Homo sapiens: one gene and its partners. The protein of the gene in region 3 purifies or fractionates together with the protein of the main gene of each other region. This does not show direct contact. Each region holds a gene or a part of one and is shown on either strand. Other genes may lie near its edges.

What was found.
Region 1: the proteins of VARS1 (region 3) and EEF1G purify together in Homo sapiens (affinity purification with mass spectrometry; 8 studies listed by BioGRID and IntAct, with this or other methods). This does not show direct contact.
Region 2: the proteins of VARS1 (region 3) and EEF1D purify together in Homo sapiens (affinity purification with mass spectrometry; 6 studies listed by BioGRID and IntAct, with this or other methods). This does not show direct contact.

Annotation. Positions count from the first base shown.
Region 1 is NC_000011.10:62,559,085-62,563,891, forward strand, and holds the end of EEF1G (elongation factor 1-gamma), read right to left. Parts: intron 1,371-4,807; coding exon 1,198-1,370; intron 1,110-1,197; coding exon 985-1,109; intron 754-984; coding exon 595-753; 3' UTR 512-594; downstream 1-511. UniProt on the Homo sapiens protein: Probably plays a role in anchoring the complex to other cellular components.
Region 2 is NC_000008.11:143,594,405-143,601,493, forward strand, and holds the start of EEF1D (elongation factor 1-delta), read right to left. Parts: upstream 3,012-7,089; 5' UTR 2,944-3,011; exon of another isoform or gene 1-2,943. Other genes in the region: TIGD5 (tigger transposable element-derived protein 5), read left to right, coding at 3,500-5,428.
Region 3 is NC_000006.12:31,785,674-31,792,752, forward strand, and holds part of VARS1 (valine--tRNA ligase), read right to left. Parts: intron 6,844-7,079; coding exon 6,719-6,843; intron 6,632-6,718; coding exon of another isoform or gene 6,629-6,631; coding exon 6,544-6,628; intron 6,299-6,543; coding exon 6,198-6,298; intron 6,065-6,197; coding exon 5,937-6,064; intron 61-5,936; coding exon 1-60. UniProt on the Homo sapiens protein: Catalyzes the attachment of valine to tRNA(Val).

The sequences.
Region 1 (4,807 bases), on a different chromosome or scaffold from region 3:
GAGCCTGGGAGACAGAGGTTGAGCTGAGACTGCACCACTACACTCCAGCCTGGGCAACAGAGCCAGACCTTGTCTGAAAAAAAAAAAGAAAAAAAAAGAAAAAGAAACTACAACCCTTGCATATTGTCAGCTACCTACCTCACAGGACAGTTACAGGAAATAATGTAAAGTTCCTTTGCGCTCTGTGAATTATACACGTTAGCTCTTGTTATTAGCAGCTATTCTCTCCCTTCACTGGGAAAGGCCTGGAATCTGATCCCTAAGAATTAGGTAGTCACAAAGCCCCATGTCACTACCCGCCCCAACTGCTTCCGCTCTTTCCCAGCTAGAAGACAGTCATCACCGTAGGAGGCAGGGTAATTAAAATCACAAGTGAACACAGGCCTCTATTTCTGTTCTTCTGAAGTCTTCTCTCCTGCATATCGAGGTACTGCGAACACAGAAAGTACCCTGCTTCAACATATCTACTCCCCTTGAAGACGCCACCACTCACAAAGGAGGCAGGACAGGAAAGGGTTCAATGTTCAGTTTCCTTTAATGACCCCCATCTCCCTGAAGGGCAGGTGCAGGCAGCTAGGTGATGGCAAGAGATGTTCACTTGAAGATCTTGCCCTGATTGAAGGCTTTGCCCACATGCTGGAAGGCCCCCTCCCAGGAAAAGTACTCTCGAACCAGCGTCTGGGTCTCCTCGCTGCCAGGATCCAGTTTCCGCCATGTGTATGACTCGTAGTCCACCTGCCAATCTGGACTCAGCTGGGGATAAAAAGCCAGCATGTGGTCAAGTTATGAGACACCACCCCACACCTGTGTTACTTCCAGCTCAAACACATGTCATCAGACCCCAGGTCTCCTGTGAACATGAACTGCTCCTTCCTATAAGCATTCCTGAACCCTCCTAAACATCCATCAACTCAGAAATAAAACACAGTGCTTCTTATATCCCTGCCCCACCCTAAAGAGACTCCTCTCCTCCACCTTCCTCACCGGAAAGGCAAGCTCCTGGCCTCGGAAGACCCAGACTCCAGAAATGGAGCTGCTATTGTTGGTTCCAAAAAGGATGACACTGGCGAAGGCATTCTTCCTCAGCTTGTCCAGTCGCTGGAACATTCCTGAAGCGGCAAGGGAGAACATTCAGCCTTTGGAATCACAGCACTTGCTACACCTTGTTCTCCTTCCTTCTCAGACCCACTCTCTTACCAGTGATGAGATTGCAGCTCATGAAGGTCTGAGTGAGTTCTTCAGGGAAGCGATACTCTGAGTACCACAGGGACCAGCCGTCCTTATCAAAGTGCTCCCAGAAATATGGCAGTGCCACAGAGAGTGTGTCCTCATTGGAGTACTTGCGCTTAAATTCATCCAACACAAAGGTACTAAGAGGAAGAAAGCACAGGGGTCAATCAATAAGGAGGAAGGTTGCCAGGCTAAGAGAAGTGAAGGGTGCTTTCACTTAAAATTTACTAATATAAAGGAAATGGTCATTGTGCTGGCAGATGTGTATGACCTTATGAGGGAAGTAAGCTCAAGGGGTTTGAACAGGGGCCTAGGACACTCCTCTGCATAAGTATGCAAGGCATGTGGAGGGTGGAACTCAAAGTGGGACTCTGAGACCTGCCCCAGGAAGGGCATGGCTAACTGCTGCCCCCAGGTGGAGACAGAGTGAGGACTTCTTTTTCCCTGTTCAGGCCCTCCCCAGGCTGTTTTCCATGAACCACACTAAGTCACTGACTCACCCAAGTCTCTTCCCCCCCACCATACAGGCCTCTTCAGGTTACACAAGCTGTAACAGGAATGTAAGCAGTGAACATTCTCAAAGGGCCTCCACCCCAAATCTTACACCCATGTCCTTTAGTCCATCTCTGCCTATAAACAAGCTTTAGTCTTTTCCAAGGTTTTCCGATGCTGGAAAGCCCTTAGGTTCAGGTTATCTTAAAAGCAATCTGGCATACTGAGCCAAGAATGCCAGCATCAATATAGCAGAGGTCACTCCCTCCACGATTGGTGCTCTGTTTTCTTTCTTTCCAGTTATAAACATATACACTGGCCAGATGCGGTGGCTCACGCCTGTAATCCCAGCACTTTGGGAGGCCAAGGCAGGTGGATCACCTCAGGTCAGGAGTTCAAGCCCAGCCTGACCAACAAGGTGAAACCCCGTTTCTACTAAAAATACAAAAATTAGCTGGGCGTGGTGGCAGGCTGAGACAGGAGAATAGCTTGAACCCGAGAGGCAGAGGTTGCAGTGAGCAGAGATCGCGCCACTGCACTCCAGCCTGGGCGATAGAGGAAGAGTCCTGTCTGGGGGGAAAAAAAAGGACAGGCAGGGTGGCTCACACCTGTAATCCCAACACTTTGGGAGGCCGAGGCGGGCGGATCACGAGGTCAAGAGATCAAGACCATCCTGGCCAACATGGTGAAAACCTATCTCTACTAAAAAAAAAAAAAAAAAAAATTGGTGGCACACGCCTGTAGTCCCAGCTACTCGGGAGGCAGGGACAGGAGACTTGCTCGAACCCAGGAGACAGAGGCTGCAGTGAGCCGAAATTGCACTCCAGCCTGGCAACAGAGCAAGACTCCGTCTCAAAAAAAAAACAAAAAAAAAACAAAAAAAAAAAAAACAACCAAAAAACACATATATGTGTGTGTGCATACATGTGTTAAATGCCTAACCTTGTTTTTACTCTAACTCACTACTTTGAATCTTCCCTGTTTGTCTCTTTAACCACCTAGCCTTGCTTCTCATGTAAATAAGACTCTCTCTCTAGCTGGGAAAGCCGGACAAACTCCAATTGACCCTTTAATTTACAAGACACTAAGGGCTCCTCACCCAACCCCCTTCCACAAGGAGTTGACCTGTGTTAAGCAGATCCTCAGCATTTCAAAGGAGCCCAATTAACTGATAAGGTACTGGCACAAACAATGTATGAAGTTCCCAGGATTTTTCTCAAAGTGATAACAACATAAAGCCTTGAGTTGTGTCCCGCATAGCCCCATATCTAATTATAATGAAGGATTTAGAGCCCTGCACCTGGTACGGTTGCTTTTTGTAACCATTTGTCTTTTAAATTGTTTATCTCTCTGTAACCATTTTGCTTCTTTTGATTCTTGCATGTTTTTACCTCTGTAAAATTATTGCATTTGAGTTCCCCTCCCCTTCCTAAACCAAGGTATAAAAGTTAGTCAAGCCCCTTCCTCAGGGCCGAGAGATTTTTGAGCGTTAGCCGTCTCTTGGTTGCCGGCTAATAAAGGACTCTTAATTCGTCTCAAAGTGTGGCGTTTTCTCTAACTCGCTCAGGTACAACATGTGTGTGTATATATGTGTGTGTGTGCATATACATACACATATATATATATATGCTGACTGAAGAAAATCACCTATAATGCCAACAAGAGGATAATCTTTTTTTTGTTTTGTTTTTTTGAGATGGAGTCTCGCCCTGTCACCCAGGCTGGAATGCAGTGGTGCGATCTCGGCTCACTGCAACCTCTACCTACCGGGTTCAAGCGATTCTCCTGCCTCAGCCTCCCAAGTAGTGGGATTACAGGCACGTGCCACTACGCCCAGCTAATTTTTGTATTTCTAGTAGAGACGAGGTTTCACTATGTTGGTCAGGCTGGTCTTGAACTCTTGACCTCGTGATCCGCCCGCCTCGGCCTCCCAAAGTGCTGGGATTACAGGCATGAGCCACCGTGCCCAGCCCAGGATAATCTTTTATGTATTTTCCTACAGCCTTTGATTTTTCAAAGATGTAGCCATGACATATGCAGTTTTGTGCTTATACTTTGTTGTTACTGGACATCCTATCCATGCTGTTAAGAATTCTTTCAGCCTGGGAAATATAGCGAGACACTGTCTCTACAAAAAAATTTAAAAATTAGCTGGGAGCTGGGCACCATGGCTCACGCCTGTAATCCCAGCTACTCAGAAGGCTGAGGCAAGAGAATTGCTTGAGTCCGGGAGGCAGAGGTTGCAGTGAGCCGAGATCACACCACTGCACTCCAGCCTGGGAGAAGAGCAAGACCCTGTCAAAAAAACAAAACAATCCTTTTTTTTTTATTTTTCCTTGAGACGGAGTCTAGCTCTGTTGCCCAGGCTGCAGTGCAGTGGTGCAATCTCGGCTCACTGCAAGCTCCGCCTCCTGGGTTCACGCCATTCTCCTGCCTCAGCCTCCTGAGTAGCTGGGACTACAGGCGCCTGCTACCGCCCCCGGCTAATTTTTTGTACTTTTTGTATTTTTAGTAGAGACGGTATTTTTACCGTGTTAGCCAGGATGGTTTCAATCTCCTGACCTCGTGATCCACCCGCCTCAGCCTCCCAAAGTGCTGGGATCACAGGCGTGAGCCACCGCGCCCAGCCTAAAACAAAACAATTTTTTGCACTAGCAGTCCCAGCTACTCAAGAGGCTGAGGTAGAAGGACCACCTGAGATCAGGAGTTGGACACCGGACTAAGCAACATAGCAAGACCCTACCTCAAAAACAGAATTCTTTGCAAACATTTTAATGGCCAAACAATCTTCTAATGCAGGATTGTGCCATAAATCTACTAAACATTGAATATTAAACTGAATGTTTAGTTGGTTCTATTGTTCATAGCATAAATATTGCCATGAGTATTCCAATTTCACTCAATCCTTATAACCCATGAGTTATCAACTGTTACCCTGACCCTCCCCTCTCTTTACAGATGAGACCAAGTAGAATGACCTGTCCAAGATTACACTGTAGCAAAGCAGAGGATCTGTCCTTTAACCCTAGGTCCCAGGTTCCTTTCCAAATGCATAAGAGACCTCATCTGAGGAGCCTTAAAACCT
Region 2 (7,089 bases), on a different chromosome or scaffold from region 3:
CAGACTCCTACCCAGAACACTCCAGGTCAGGAGGGCAGGGCCCTGAGGAAGGTGAGGACATCCTGGAGAGCTGTGGCCACCAAGGTGCTGCACGGCCTGGAGGTCTCCACACATCTGGGCAAACGGAAGCTTTCTGGGAGGAGCTGGCTCCCAGGCCCTGCCCTCCACGCCACCCCATCACAGTCGCACACACAGACAGGCTCCCAGATTGTCCACCCTCCACAGGGAGAAGTCAGGGAGGTGGGCAGGGGACGGGGTCAGCCACCGGCTCAGCCTGTGCACGCCCACCCCTCCCAGCAGCACCCCTCTCCGGCCCACCTGGCTGGCCTGAGTCTGTGGACTGGCACTGCCTGATAGAACTTTCAGTACCTTCAGTGCCCAAAGGGCGCGACGACTAGCCCTTAAAAGAGGCTGGAGCCCCTGAGGAAGCGGGTCTTTAGGCAAAACCACCGCACGGCAGAGCAGCCACAGGACAGATCAATGTCTTCCTGCGTGGAGTGAGGCCTTCGGTCTTTTTTTGAGACGGAGTCTCACTCTGTCACCCAGGCTGGAGTGCAGTGGCGCGATCTTGGCTCACTGCAACCTCCAACTCCCCGGTTCAAGCGATTCTCCTGCCTCAGCCTCCCAAGTAGCTGGGACTACAGGCATGCGCAACCACGGCCAGCTAATTTTTGGGTTTTTTTTGAGACGGAGCCTCACTCTGTCACCAGGCTGGAGTGCAGTGGTACGATCTCAGCTCACTGCAACTTCCACCTCCCGGGTCCAAGCAATTCTCCTACCTCAGCCTCCCAAGTAGCTGGGATTACAGGCGTGTGCCACCACACCTGGCTATTTTTTCATATTTTTAGTAGAGATGGGGTTTCACCATGTTTGCCAGGCTGGTCTCGAACTCCTGACCTCAGGTGATCTGCCTGCCTTGGCCTCCCACAGTGCTGGGATTACAGACATGAGCCATGCGCCCAGCCTAATTTTCGTATTTTTAGTAGAGACGGGGTTTCACCATGTTGGCCAGGATGGTCTCGATATCCTGACCTCATGATCTGCCTGCCTCGGCCTCCCAAAGTGCTGGGATCACCAGCATGAGCCACCACGCCCAGCCGCCTTTGGTCTTTTTAAGAGAAAAAACTCCACAGTTCCACATTCCCACTCAGCCACTTTCCTGTCTGACCCCTGGATATTCCAGCCCCACTGGGAAACGCCAGCCTGTCCTGCATATCTCAGAGCACTCACTGTAGCTACCCAACCCACCCTGCCCCAGGCCAAGCCCCGCCCCAACCACGTCTTTTCTTAAATGCCACTGCAGGCCAGCTCCATGGCCAGCCCTGCTTGAGGGGCTCTGGCCGACCTGCCTGCCCGGCGCAGCCCCTGTGCCTCCTGGGTGACTCCAGCACGGCACAGGCTTTCTGGAACCCCAGACAATACCCACGCCACACCTCACACGGCACCCTTGGCTGTCAGCGAGGTGGGAGAGCTGGAGACCTGTGGCAGGCTCCTACACCAGCACTTAGCATAACTCACTGCCACCAGCTTCCAACACGCTGATGTCACCTTAACACACTGGCACAGGATGATGACCCACAAATCCTCAATGCCACATTTCCTGTCCTCAGCCCCCAGAAGGCTGACGCCAGTGCACGGCACAGCCCAGGTACTCTTTGTCCATCATCAAGCACGTGTGCCCACCTGTGCTAAACCTTGCAGCCTCACCCAGCAACCCGGGAGCAAAGCCCAGAGGGCCTAGTCCTCCAGAGGAGGCGGGAGGCAGCGGGGGCTCTGTCGGCTGGGCGCTCACTCTGCCAGCACTGACTGCGTGTGAACCCTGCAGCAGCCCAGGGGAGATGCTGCTGTCTCACAGGATTGGCACTGCGCCCAGAAAGCCTCTACAGAGGCAGGTCTAGGAGCCTGGCTGGGCCTGAGGCATGTGGTGAGAAGGCGAAGGTGAGCGTCTACTTCCTCAGAGGACGCTCGGGGGCTCCTTCCACACCTGCCCAGCCCCTCAGCTGCATCCCCCACCCCCAGAACGGGGCTGGGCACACACGGGCTCCGGAAGTAACCAACTGCCTGCGAGCCAGCTGCTTAAGGCTCATGGGGTCCAGATGACGGGGTGGGCGGAGCTGTAGAAGGAGGCTGCTCAGGTGAGATGGCCTGGCCTGCCTCCCTGGGAGGTGAGCCGCAGGCAGTGTCAACTTAAGAAGCACCCCGCCCTGTCGGGCAGGGACAACCCCAAGTTTAGCTACACAGTTCTTCTGCTGCCAGGCGGTCCTTCATTCTGGAAACCAATCCTGACGTCTCATCAGGTCCCCAACCCACTCCGCCCCCTTTGCCTTCTTCCTTCCACTTAAAGCCTCTGAAAGTACTACTTCTTAGCAACAGCATCCCCGCCCCCTTCAGAGACTGCCCGACCACCCTATCCAAATCAAGAGACAGAAATTTTGACCCAGTCACAGTACAGGCTTATTCCTTTCCGTGCTCACTAGCGTCTAAGTTCCAAAAGTGTTGCGTCCGTGCCTATCCCCTCCGTGCTCAGCTGATGCGTGCAGTAACTGGTGCTTGACAAAGACGTGGTGTACGAAGGTCTGCAGGCCAGAGAAACAGCTGGGGCAGATGTCTGGTCTCCCACGGAGACGGCAGCAAACACAGGCCTTAGGCCCCAGCAGCCTGGCCGAGGGGCTTCCACGACCGGGATGCGCCGTGAGACAGTGCTCCCGGCGCCCCCGTCCCGCGGACGCCCTCCAAGCCGGCCACGTGGCCTCCGTCGCCCCGCCTCTCTGCGCTCGCCCCAAGTGCCGCACTTGGCCCACGGCCCCTAAGCCCGCGCTGGCGCACTTGTGCCTCAGTCCCTAACGGCGCGAGCTTCTGGCGCAGCCCGGGCCGCCCGCCCTCCCGGCCCCTCGGGCGTCTCTGTCGCGCCCGACTCCTTCCGGCGGGGGCCGCGGTACTCACACGCCAGCCAAGGACGCGGCGACCAAGGAGGAGGAATCGGCGGACGCGGGAAGACTGATGAAAGGGAGGGCCGCCCGGGCCGCGCACGGGAAATGAAGCACTGGGCTCTACCAAGAGCCACGGGCCGGGGGCCCGGGGGGGGGACGCGACCCTTGCACACGCCCCGCCTGGCCGCCAGGACCCTCGACGCGCCGTGCCCCGACACTTCAAAGGCAGAATTCCGTTGGAGATGACCGCGGAGGCCGCTCTTCCCCGGAGGAGTCTGCACAAGTGCTGGGAACGGGCGGCAGCGCGCGCGCCCCCCCTGCGCTTCGCGGCCAGTGGTGTCGCCGGTGGGGGCGGGTCCGGCAGCCGGCAAGCGCCGAGTGACGCACGAGGCGGCCAGCGCGCAGGCGCGGGGCGGGGCCGGGCCGGGCTAGGTCAGCGCGCGTGCGCCCGCCAAGCTGCGGGACAAAGGGGAGGGACCCGTGCGGCCCCGCCCCCGAGTGCCCCGCCCCGAGCGGCTGGGCGTGTGGCTCCCGCGACCCGCGCGGCCCGGGTCCCCCCCGCCGCAGCCATGTACCCCGCGGGCCCCCCGGCCGGCCCGGTACCGCGCCGCGGCCGCCGTCCCCTGCCCGGGCCCCCCGCGCCCGCCCCAGCCCCCGTCCCCGCTGCACGGCCGCCGCCCCCCGCGCCCGGGCCGCGGCCCCGCGTGGCCGTGAAGATGGCCTTCCGCAAGGCCTACTCCATCAAGGACAAGCTGCAGGCCATCGAGCGCGTCAAGGGCGGCGAGCGGCAGGCCAGTGTGTGCCGCGACTTCGGCGTGCCGGGCGGGACGCTGCGCGGCTGGCTCAAGGACGAGCCCAAGCTGCGCTGGTTCCTGGAGCAGCTGGGCGGTGAGGTGGGCACTCAGCGCAAGAAGATGCGGCTGGCCAACGAGGAGGAGATCGACCGCGCCGTGTACGCCTGGTTCCTGGCGCTGCGCCAGCACGGGGTGCCGCTGTCTGGCCCGCTCATCCAGGCGCAGGCCGAGGCCTTCGCGCGCCAGATCTACGGGCCCGAGTGCACCTTCAAGGCCAGCCACGGCTGGTTCTGGCGCTGGCAGAAGCGCCACGGCATCTCCAGCCAGCGCTTCTACGGCGAGGCCGGGCCCCCAGCCCCGAGCCCCGCGCCCGGCCCGCCCGTCAAGGAGGAGCCCGCGCTGCCCTCCGGCGCCGGCCCCCTGCCCGACCGCGCCCCGGCCCCGCCGCCCCCGGCCGAGGGCGGCTACGGGGACGAGCAGATTTACAGCGCCAGCGTCACCGGCCTCTACTGGAAGCTGCTTCCGGAGCAGGCTGCGCCCCCGGGCGCAGGGGACCCCGGGGCGGGGGGCTGTGGCCGGCGCTGGCGGGGCGACCGCGTAACGGTGCTGCTGGCCGCAAACCTGACCGGCAGCCACAAGCTGAAGCCGCTGGTCATCGGGCGGCTGCCGGACCCGCCCAGCCTGCGCCACCACAACCAGGACAAGTTCCCGGCCTCCTACCGCTACAGCCCCGACGCCTGGCTCAGCCGCCCGCTGCTGCGGGGCTGGTTCTTTGAGGAATTTGTCCCAGGCGTCAAACGCTACCTGCGCCGAAGCTGCCTGCAGCAGAAGGCCGTGCTGCTGGTGGCCCACCCGCCCTGCCCAAGCCCAGCTGCCAGTATGCCCGCCCTGGACAGCGAGGATGCCCCCGTGCGGTGCAGGCCGGAGCCCCTCGGTCCCCCGGAGGAGCTGCAGACACCGGATGGCGCTGTGCGGGTGCTGTTCCTGTCCAAAGGCAGCAGCCGGGCACATATCCCCGCACCGCTGGAGCAGGGCGTGGTGGCCGCCTTCAAACAGCTGTACAAGCGCGAGCTGCTGCGACTGGCTGTGTCCTGCGCCAGCGGCTCCCCGCTGGACTTCATGCGCAGCTTCATGCTCAAGGACATGCTCTACCTGGCTGGCCTCTCCTGGGACCTGGTGCAGGCGGGCAGCATTGAGCGCTGCTGGCTGCTGGGCCTGCGGGCTGCCTTCGAGCCCCGGCCCGGCGAGGACAGTGCTGGGCAGCCGGCCCAGGCCGAGGAAGCCGCCGAGCACAGCAGGGTGCTCAGCGACCTCACCCACCTGGCGGCTCTGGCCTACAAGTGCCTGGCTCCGGAGGAGGTTGCGGAGTGGCTGCACCTGGACGATGATGGGGGTCCGCCCGAGGGCTGCAGGGAGGAGGTGGGCCCAGCCCTGCCCCCTGCAGCGCCTCCGGCCCCAGCCAGTCTGCCCTCTGCCATGGGGGGCGGAGAGGACGAGGAGGAGGCCACCGACTATGGAGGGACCTCAGTGCCGACTGCCGGGGAGGCCGTGCGGGGGCTAGAAACAGCTCTGCGGTGGCTGGAGAACCAGGACCCCAGAGAGGTGGGGCCACTGAGGCTGGTGCAGTTGCGCTCACTCATCAGCATGGCCCGGAGGCTGGGGGGCATCGGGCATACCCCAGCAGGCCCCTATGACGGTGTGTGACCAGGCCAGCCCAGTGACCTTTCTCCTGCTGCACTTGGAGGGAGGGGACATACACACAGTCTCCCATCTCTCCTCCCCTCCCCCTGGGGTGGCCCACCGCATGGGTACAGGGGGTTCCAGGAATCCAAATCCAGCATGGCTTGGAGGAGCTCTGTTGGTGAGAGGTCGCCCTGCCTCACTGGCACCCTGGGGGCACAGCTGGAAGAGAGGCCTGGCCCATGCTCCTCTCAGGGCAGGCACATGTACGGGGCATACAAGGCACAGCGCCTGTTGGAACAGGTGGCTGTGTTCCTGCTCTGGCCCCCGTGGGGCTGGGCCTCCGCCCCTGCACCAGTCACATGCACTGGACGAGGGCCGAAACTCCTGTCTGCTATCGAGCCCTGGTGCTATGTGGCCCCGGAGCCACAGCACAATCATCTCAGTGGCGAAGCACACCACTTGATTCTATTTTTTTTTAACACATTAAATCTGTTTTTAAAGATACTCTTCAGAGGGGCCGTGAGAACAGGGGCCGGGTGGGCTGGTCTCGGGCCGCCCTGCGGTTTCTCTGGAGGTCAGAGGCCCCAGGTACTGGAGCATCACTGTGGAGTGGGAGGGGTGGAGCCCTGTATTAGGTTCTGGGTGCAGCAGGGAGGTGTAGAGTTCCGTTTCCTTGGATTTTTAGTTTTCCCTAAGAAAACTGAACAGATCTCTTATTCCGTGGGATTGGCAGCTGCCTGGCTTTGGGCCCTGGTGACTTGGCCAACGGCAGGAGAGTTTCCCCTGCTTCCTCATCAGCCACAGACCATTCTGTCCAGTCCCAGGGCCTGGAGCCACCTGACTTACCTGGAAGCAGGCCCTGGCATTAGCCCCCAGGGCAATACGCAGTGCCACCCTCTGTGGGCTCTCCTCCCCACCCTCAGACTTTTCTGCCTCTCCTGGGACTGCCAAGGATGTGGCTGACAAGCTGCTCCTGGGAGGCCTACTTTGAAAGGAGGAAAGGGCCCCAGGGCCTGTCAAACCCTGGTTCTGTTCTGCTCTGGCCAGGTCTAGACCTACAGTCCTTCTGGTTGGACTGGGGCCAGGGATGCCCATGCCTCCTCAGGTAGGGTGGGAACTGCCTTTGCAGAGATGCTGCCCGAGCTGGTGTGAGGGGCAGGGAGCTGGCCTGCTTGCCTCCAGGTGTTGACCCCTCGTCCCCATCTGCCCCCAGTGTCCTCCTAGGAGAGGGAACCTTGAAAACCCAGAGTTGTGGAGTGCAGGGGTAGGCTGGAGGCCTGCACGGGGAAGGGAAGGGCTGTGCACCAGCTTGGCAGTGGGGCAGCTGGAGGGTGTCCCCCAAAAGTGACCTTTATACAGGTCCAGGAACAAACAGTTCCTTGGAACTGCCCGCAAGTGAAGAAATATATACATATATATGTATATATCTATATCTCAAAATCTGAGAGCTCAGGGAGGCCGTGGAAATTTGGGGAAGAAGAAACAGACTCCCTGAGCAGAGCTCAGGGCAGCAGCTCCAGGCATGCCTGCTGAGCCCATCAGGCCACCGCCACCTGCAGGAAGAGCCTCTGGCCTGAACTGCTGGGGATGGGCTGCAGAAAGCCTGAGACATTTGGGCCAGCACCTTCCCAGGGGCACAGGCCCCCAAGGCGGGGACACCACCTCTGCTCTGCCAGGCCTGC
Region 3 (7,079 bases):
GCAATACCTGCATGGTCACAGCCAGGGTTCCACAGGGTGGTCTCCCCACGCATGCGGTGCCTGTTAGGGGGCATGGAGGACCAGAGGGTGAGCCAGGCCAGTGGGGCCTGGCACCAAAGAAAGCAGAGGCTTCAGGCAAGGAGTCAGTGGACTAAATAAAGAAGCAGGGAGGCCGGACGCGGTGGCTCACGCCTGTAATCCCAGAACTTTGGGAGGCTGAGGTGGGTGGATCACCTCAGGTGGGGGAGTTCGAGATGAGCCTGGCCAACATGGTAAAACCCCGTCTCTACTAAAAATACAAAATTAGCTGGGCATGGTGGCATGCGCCTGTAATCCCAGCACTTTGGGAAGCCGAGGTGGGTGGATCACCTGAGGTGGGGACTTCAAGATAAGCCTGGCCAATATGGTAAAACCCTGTCTGTATTAAAAATACAAAATTAGCTGGGCGTGGTGGCATGTGCCTGTAATCCCAGCTACTTGGAAGGCTGAGGCAGGAGAATTGCTTGAACCCGGGAAGCAGAGGTTGCAGCAAGCTGGGATCATGCCATTGCACTCCAGCCTGGGTGACAGAGTGAGACTCCGTCTCCAAAAAACAAACAAAAAAAAAAAGAAAGAAGCAGGGGTGGAGCTGGAACCCTTGTGATTCTAAAGCTAGTCAAGGAGAAAAGATTTGAAGGAAGAGCCAAGGCAATATGGAAAAAGAACAAAGACAGGCATGCGTGGTGGCTCACACCTGTAACCCCAGGACTTTGGGAGGCCAAGGCGAGTGGATCACTTGAGGACAGGAGTTCGAGACCAGCCTGACCAACATGGCAAGACCCTGTCTCTACCAAAAATATAAAAATTAGCCAGGATGGTGGTGCATACCTGTAATCCCAGCTACTTGGGAGGCTGAAGCACGAGAATCGCTTGAAGCTGGGAGGGGGAGGTTGCAGTGAGTTGAAATTGTGCCACTGCACTCCAGCCCGGATGACAGAGTGAGACTCTGTCTCAAAAAAAAAAAAAAAAAAAAAAAAAAAGAACGAAGAGGAGGCTCCTGCCAAACAGGATAGCAAAAGTTCTAATTGTTAAAATAAGTTACTAAACAGGAACAAAATAGTACCTGGAAACAGATACAAGCAAATTTAGTGTTTGTGAAAGTTGGCACTTCCTATCAGTAAAATAAGGATAAACTATTCAAAATGTTTGAAACAACTAGCTAATTATTTGGAAAAAATCTCCCCCTTACCAATAGTCACAAAAAGAAACTTTAGATAGATTAAAGAATTCAAGCCAGGCACAGTGGCTCAAGCCTATAACCCCAACACTTTGGGAGGCCAAGGTGAGAGGACTGCTTGAGCCCAGGAGTTGCAGACTAGCCTGGGCAACATAGTGAGACCTAGTCTCTGCAAAAAAAAAAAAAAAAAAGCCAGGCATGGTGGCGTGCACCTTTGTTCCCAGCTACTTGGGTGGCTGAGGTTGAGGCTGCACCAAGCTATGATTGTGCTGTGATCATGCCGATGCACTCCAATCTGGCCAACACAGTGAGAGAGACTCTGTCTCAAAAATAAATAAATAAACAAATAAATAAAAATAAAAAGTTGATATAACTCTATTCCATTAAAGTAATGGGAGTGTCTCACATTTTATTTAAACCACGTTCACTGGAAAAAAAATGTGGCTACCTTAAGAGTTTTATAAGAAGTATGTGGCCAGGCACAGTGGCTCACACCTGTAATCCCAGCACTTTGGGAGGCCGAGGCAGGCGGCTTACTTCAGGTTAGGAGTTCAAGACCAGCTTGGCCAACATGGCAAAACTCTGTCTACTAAAAATGCAAAAGAATTAGCTGGGCGTGGTGGTGCGTGCCTGTAGTCCCAGCTACTCAGGAGACTGAGACACAAGAATCGCTTGAACCCAAGTGGTTGAGGTTGCAGTGAGACGAGATCGCGTCACTGCACTCCAGCCTGGGCGACAGAGCGAGACTCTGTCTCAATTAAAAAAAAAAAAGTAGTCATTCTGTTTTCATGTAAACAAACTTGGAGGCCAGGTATGGTGGTTCATGCCTGTAGTCCCAGCACTTTGGGAGACTGAGGCAGGAGGATTGCTTGAGCCCAGAAGTTCAAGACCAGCCTGGGCAACATAGCGAGACCCTCTCTTGATTTTATTAAAAAATTGAAAAACAGGGCCGGGCGTGGTGGCTCACGCCTATAATCCCAGCACTTTGGGACGCCGAGGTACGCGAATCACGAGGTCAGGAGATCGAGACCATCTTGGCTAACACGGTGAAACCCCGTCTCTACTAAAAATACAAAAAAAATTAGCCAGGCGTGGTGGTGGGCTCCTATAGTCCCAGCTACTCAGGAGGCTGAGGCAGGAGAATGGTGTGAACCTGGGAGGAGGAGCTTGCAGTGAGCAGAGACTGCGCCACTGCACTCCAGCCTGGGTGACAGAGCAAGACCCCATTTCCAAAGAAAAAAAAAAAATTGAAAAATTGAAAAAACAAAAACGCAAACACAAACGCAAACAACTTGGCCATTGTATGTTATGTGTATTTAACAGAACTGTTGGCTGGACGAAGTGGCTCATGCCTGTCATCCTAGCACTTTGGGAGACCGAAGCGGGAGGATCACAAGGTCAGGAGCTCGAAACAAGCCTGACCAACATGGTGAAACCCCGTCTCTACTAAAAATACAAAAATTAGCCAGGTGTGGTGGCATGCGCCTGTAATCCCAGCTACTCAGAAGGCTGAGGCAGGAGAATCGCTTGAGCTCAGGAGGCAGAGGTTGCAGTAAGCGCGCATCACTGCACTCCAGCCTGGGAAACCGAGAGAGACTCTGTCTCAAAAAAACAAAAAAAACAAAAAAAAAAACAGGCCAGGCGCGGTGGGTCACGCCTGTAATCCCAGCACTTTGGGAGGCCGAGGTGAGCAGATCATGAGGTCAAGAGATCGAGACCATCCTGGCCGACAGGGTGAAACCCTGTCTCTACTAAAAAAAATACAAAAAATTAGCCAGGCGTGGTGGCGGGCGCCTGTAGTCCCAGCTACTCAGGAGGCTGAGGCAGGAGTATGCTGTGAACCTGGGAAGCAGAGCTTGCAGTGAGCCAAGATTGCGCCACCGCACTCCAGCCTGGGCGACAGAGAGAGACTCTGTCTCAAAATAATAATAATAATAATAAAAATAAAAAAATAAAACATATAACTGTTTTCCTAGCTCTCAGTTACTTGCAAAATGCACAATCAAACATTATATTCCCAGTGCTCAGAGCAGAGGTGGCACATAGTTGGGCCCAGTAAATATTTTTTGACCACATTAATTTAGTACATAAGACACCAGAAAAAATTCTCAAAATTTAAATATAATAAACCCTGGTTTCCAAAAATGGTAAAGTTATTTTAAAATACTTTTTAAAAAGATTTGTCACCTAGAATATTACTTTGTATTTATCACTAATTAAAATATTAACAGTGAAAACAAATAGTAACAGAAAACAGGAGAAACATTTACAATTAACAGGAAAACTACCACACAATAATACAACAAAAACATTTACAATATTTAACAAAAAAATTGATACCCAGAACAGGTAAAGAATTCTCAAAAAAAAAATTAAAAAGAAAAAGAACGAAGAATCAATAGAAAAACGGGGAAAAGATAGATACAGACAATTCACATATGGGTAAACCTGACTGGCCAAAAAACATGAAAATAGGCACAACTTCAATAGCAATCAGAAAGGTACAAAGTAAAACAACAGAGGTATTTTTTTGCCCATCAGATTGGCAAAACTAATTAGGCAACCCTAATGCTCAGGCTTAGCAAGGGTGGGGAAATGAACACTCTCACAGCAATTCCTGGAGGTATCAATCAGCAAAGCCATTCTGCAGGGCAACTTGGCAGCTTCCGTTTGTACTTAATATAGGTGTGCCCCTGCCGACCTAGCAGTTTCACTTCTTGATAGCTACACCAGCGAAACCCTTCCACACATGCTTCAGCAAGCATATAGAGCAGGGGTATCCAATCTTTTGGCTTCCCTGGGCCACATGGAAGAATTGTCTTGGGCCACAGATAAAATACACTAACACTGGCTGGGAGCAGTGGCTCACGCCTGTAATCCCAGCACTTTGGGAGTCCGAGGCGGGCGGATCACGAGGTCAGGAGATCGAGACCATCCTGGCTAACATGGTGAAACCCCGTCTCTACTAAAAATACAAAAAAAAAATTAGCCGGGCGTGGTGGTGGGCACCTGTAGTCCTAGCTACTTGGGAGGCTGAGGCAGGAGAATGGCGTTAACGTGGGAGGCGGAGTTTGGAGCTTGCAGTGAGCCGAGACTGTGCCACTGCACTCCAGCCTGGGTGACAGTGCAAGACCCGTCTCAAAAAATAAATAAATAAATAAATAATAAAAATAAATTTAAAAAAATACACTAACACTAACGATAGCTGATGAGCTAAAAAAAAAAAATCGCAAAAAAATTCTTAAATGTTTAAACAAAGTTTACAAATTTGTGTTAGGCTGCATTCAAAGCCGTCCTGGGCCGCATGTGGCCCACAGGCTGCAGGTTGGACAAACTTGATATACAGGGATGTGCATTAGAGTAAGGTTTTCAACAGAAAAAAAACAAAAAACAAAAAACAGAATGAATCATTAATTAAAAAGTGACTCCAGGCCGGGAGCAGTGGCTCACGCCTGTAATCCCAGCACTTTGGGAGGCCGAGGCAGGCAGATCACCTGAGGTCAGGAGTTTGAGACCAGCCTGGCCAACATGGTGAAACCCCATCTCTACTAAAAATACAAAAATTAGCCAGGCGCGGTGGCAGGTGCCTGTAATGCCAGCTACTTGGGAGGCTGAGGCAAGAGAATCGCTTGAACCTAGGAGGTGGAGGTTGCGGTGAGCCGAGATCATGCCACTGTACTCCAGCCTGAGCAAAAAGAGTGAAACTCTGTCTCAAAAAAAAAAAAAAAAAAAAAAAAAAAAAGAATGACTTCACTATGGTACAGCCACACTATGAGATATTATGGAACAATTAAAAAGAAGGAAGTCAGTATGTGTGGTATGTGTGTAAGGACAAGGAAAGATCTCCAAGAGAAAGTATTAAGTGTAAGAAGAAAGCTAGATCATAACAAGTGTAATATGAACCCTTTATGTTAAAAAATAGAAAAGACTCACCCAAAAGGAGAACTATAAATTTCTATGGGTACGTGTATATGTAAGTAAATAGGAAAGATCTGGGAAGATACACATCAAAGTGATAACAATGGCTAAATCTTAGGAGGAAGTAGGTGTGGAGGGGGATGGTCAAGGAGATTTGAAACTTTAAATTTCTTACAAGAATATATTCATATATTTTGGTCAGTTGTGGTGGCGCATTCCTGTAATCCCAGCTACTTGGGAGGCTGAGGCAGGAGAATCACTTGAACCCAGGAGGCAGCGGTTGCCATGAGCCGAGATGGCGTCACTGCACTCCGGCCTGGGCAACAGAACAAGACTCTGTCCCCCCAAAAAAAAATATATATATTCATATGTTCCTAATTAAATTCAAAATAATGTTATTGTTACTAGAAAAAGAAGGGAGAGACTGGGTGTGGTGCCTCACACCTATAATCCCAGCACTCTGGGAGTCTGAGACAGGAGAATCACTTGAGCCAGGAGTTGGAGACCAGACTGAGCAACAAAGTGAAAACTCATCTTTACAAAAAATTAAATTAAATTAAATTAAAATTAAATAAAGAAAGAAGGGATAGAAGAGAGTCTGCAAGTGGCGGTGTTGCATGGGAGTACTGGACTAGGAGAGGAAGCTAAATGATCAGATTGGAATGACAGAGAGAAGTGTAGCACCACTGGGGGCAGAAGTGAGCACCAACCCAGAAGGAGAGAGGCTCGGGGGGCTGTCAGGGAAAAGGAGAGAGCCAGACTAGGCAGAGGGAACCAGAGGAAGGTGCAGATAGAAGCTCACCATCGAGTCAGGGAGTCCTGGATGGCGTTGGTGAGTGCATGGCCCAGGTGCAGGGAGCCTGTCACATTGGGGGGTGGGATGCACATCATGAAGACACCTCGGGGATTTGCTGCTGACACATTAGGACGCTGATGGTGGAGAAGGATGGCACATGTTTAAGGCCTCAGGTCACCTCTCCCAGCCCCTCCCAGGCAACACATCCTTCAGTCCTGCCCTTCCCCACCCCACCCACTCTGGGCCTGGGCAGCAGTGCCTACTCACCCCATACTCTGGCTTGAAGAAGCCCTGCTGCTCCCACCAAGGGTACCAGGCAGCCTCCACATACCGAGGGCTGTAGGAGTCGGGCATGGGGCCACTGACATCTGGGGGAGAGGAAGGGAGGGCTCAGTGCCGTGGCTGGGAGCACTCTGGGAAGGAGACGTGCTGGCAGAGAGGGATCGGGATCTCCGTCACTCACATCATAGGACAGGCATTTGAGGGGCCTAGAGGCAGGGCAGGGGGTCTGCAATTCCTCACCAAACAAAGTGGTGAGAGCAAGAATAGAGCAAGATAGGGTGAAAACTTAGAAGGGGCTGCTGAGGGGTGAGCCCCTTCCCACTCCTAGTACCTTTCTTTTCCCCGGGTGGGGTTGGGAGGTCATAGGTAATGACCCCAGGATCCCGTTTCTCCCTCTTCTCTGGTTTTGGTTTCTTCTGCTTGGGAGGGAGAAGACATAGGCCCAGGCATCAGCCAACCCATCACCGCACACATCAACTTTCCTTCCAGCTCCACCCTCGCCTCACCTCCCCTGGAGGTGGCTGCTGCTGTTGGATCTTCTGCTTCTGTTGGAATTTCTCTAGCTTCTCCCGTTTCTTTGCCTCTTTCTTGAGCTGAGCAGCTGTCTTTGGGAGGGCAGGAGCCTCGGGGCCTAGAGAGAGGTGCAGAAATTCAGACTCAGCCAGCTGGGGACCCTCTTGGACGGCCATACTAGGTTTCAGATGGGGTATTTTAGATGCCCGAGGTCTTGCCCATGCTGACCTCCCCCCTCTCCCTCCTCTCCCGCAGGACCCTGCCCCAGTGATTCTGCCATTTCTAGGAAAAAAAGAAAGTGAGTTGCATGGAAGGCCCCAGGGAAGCCCCTATCCTCCAACTCCTCGCCCTTCC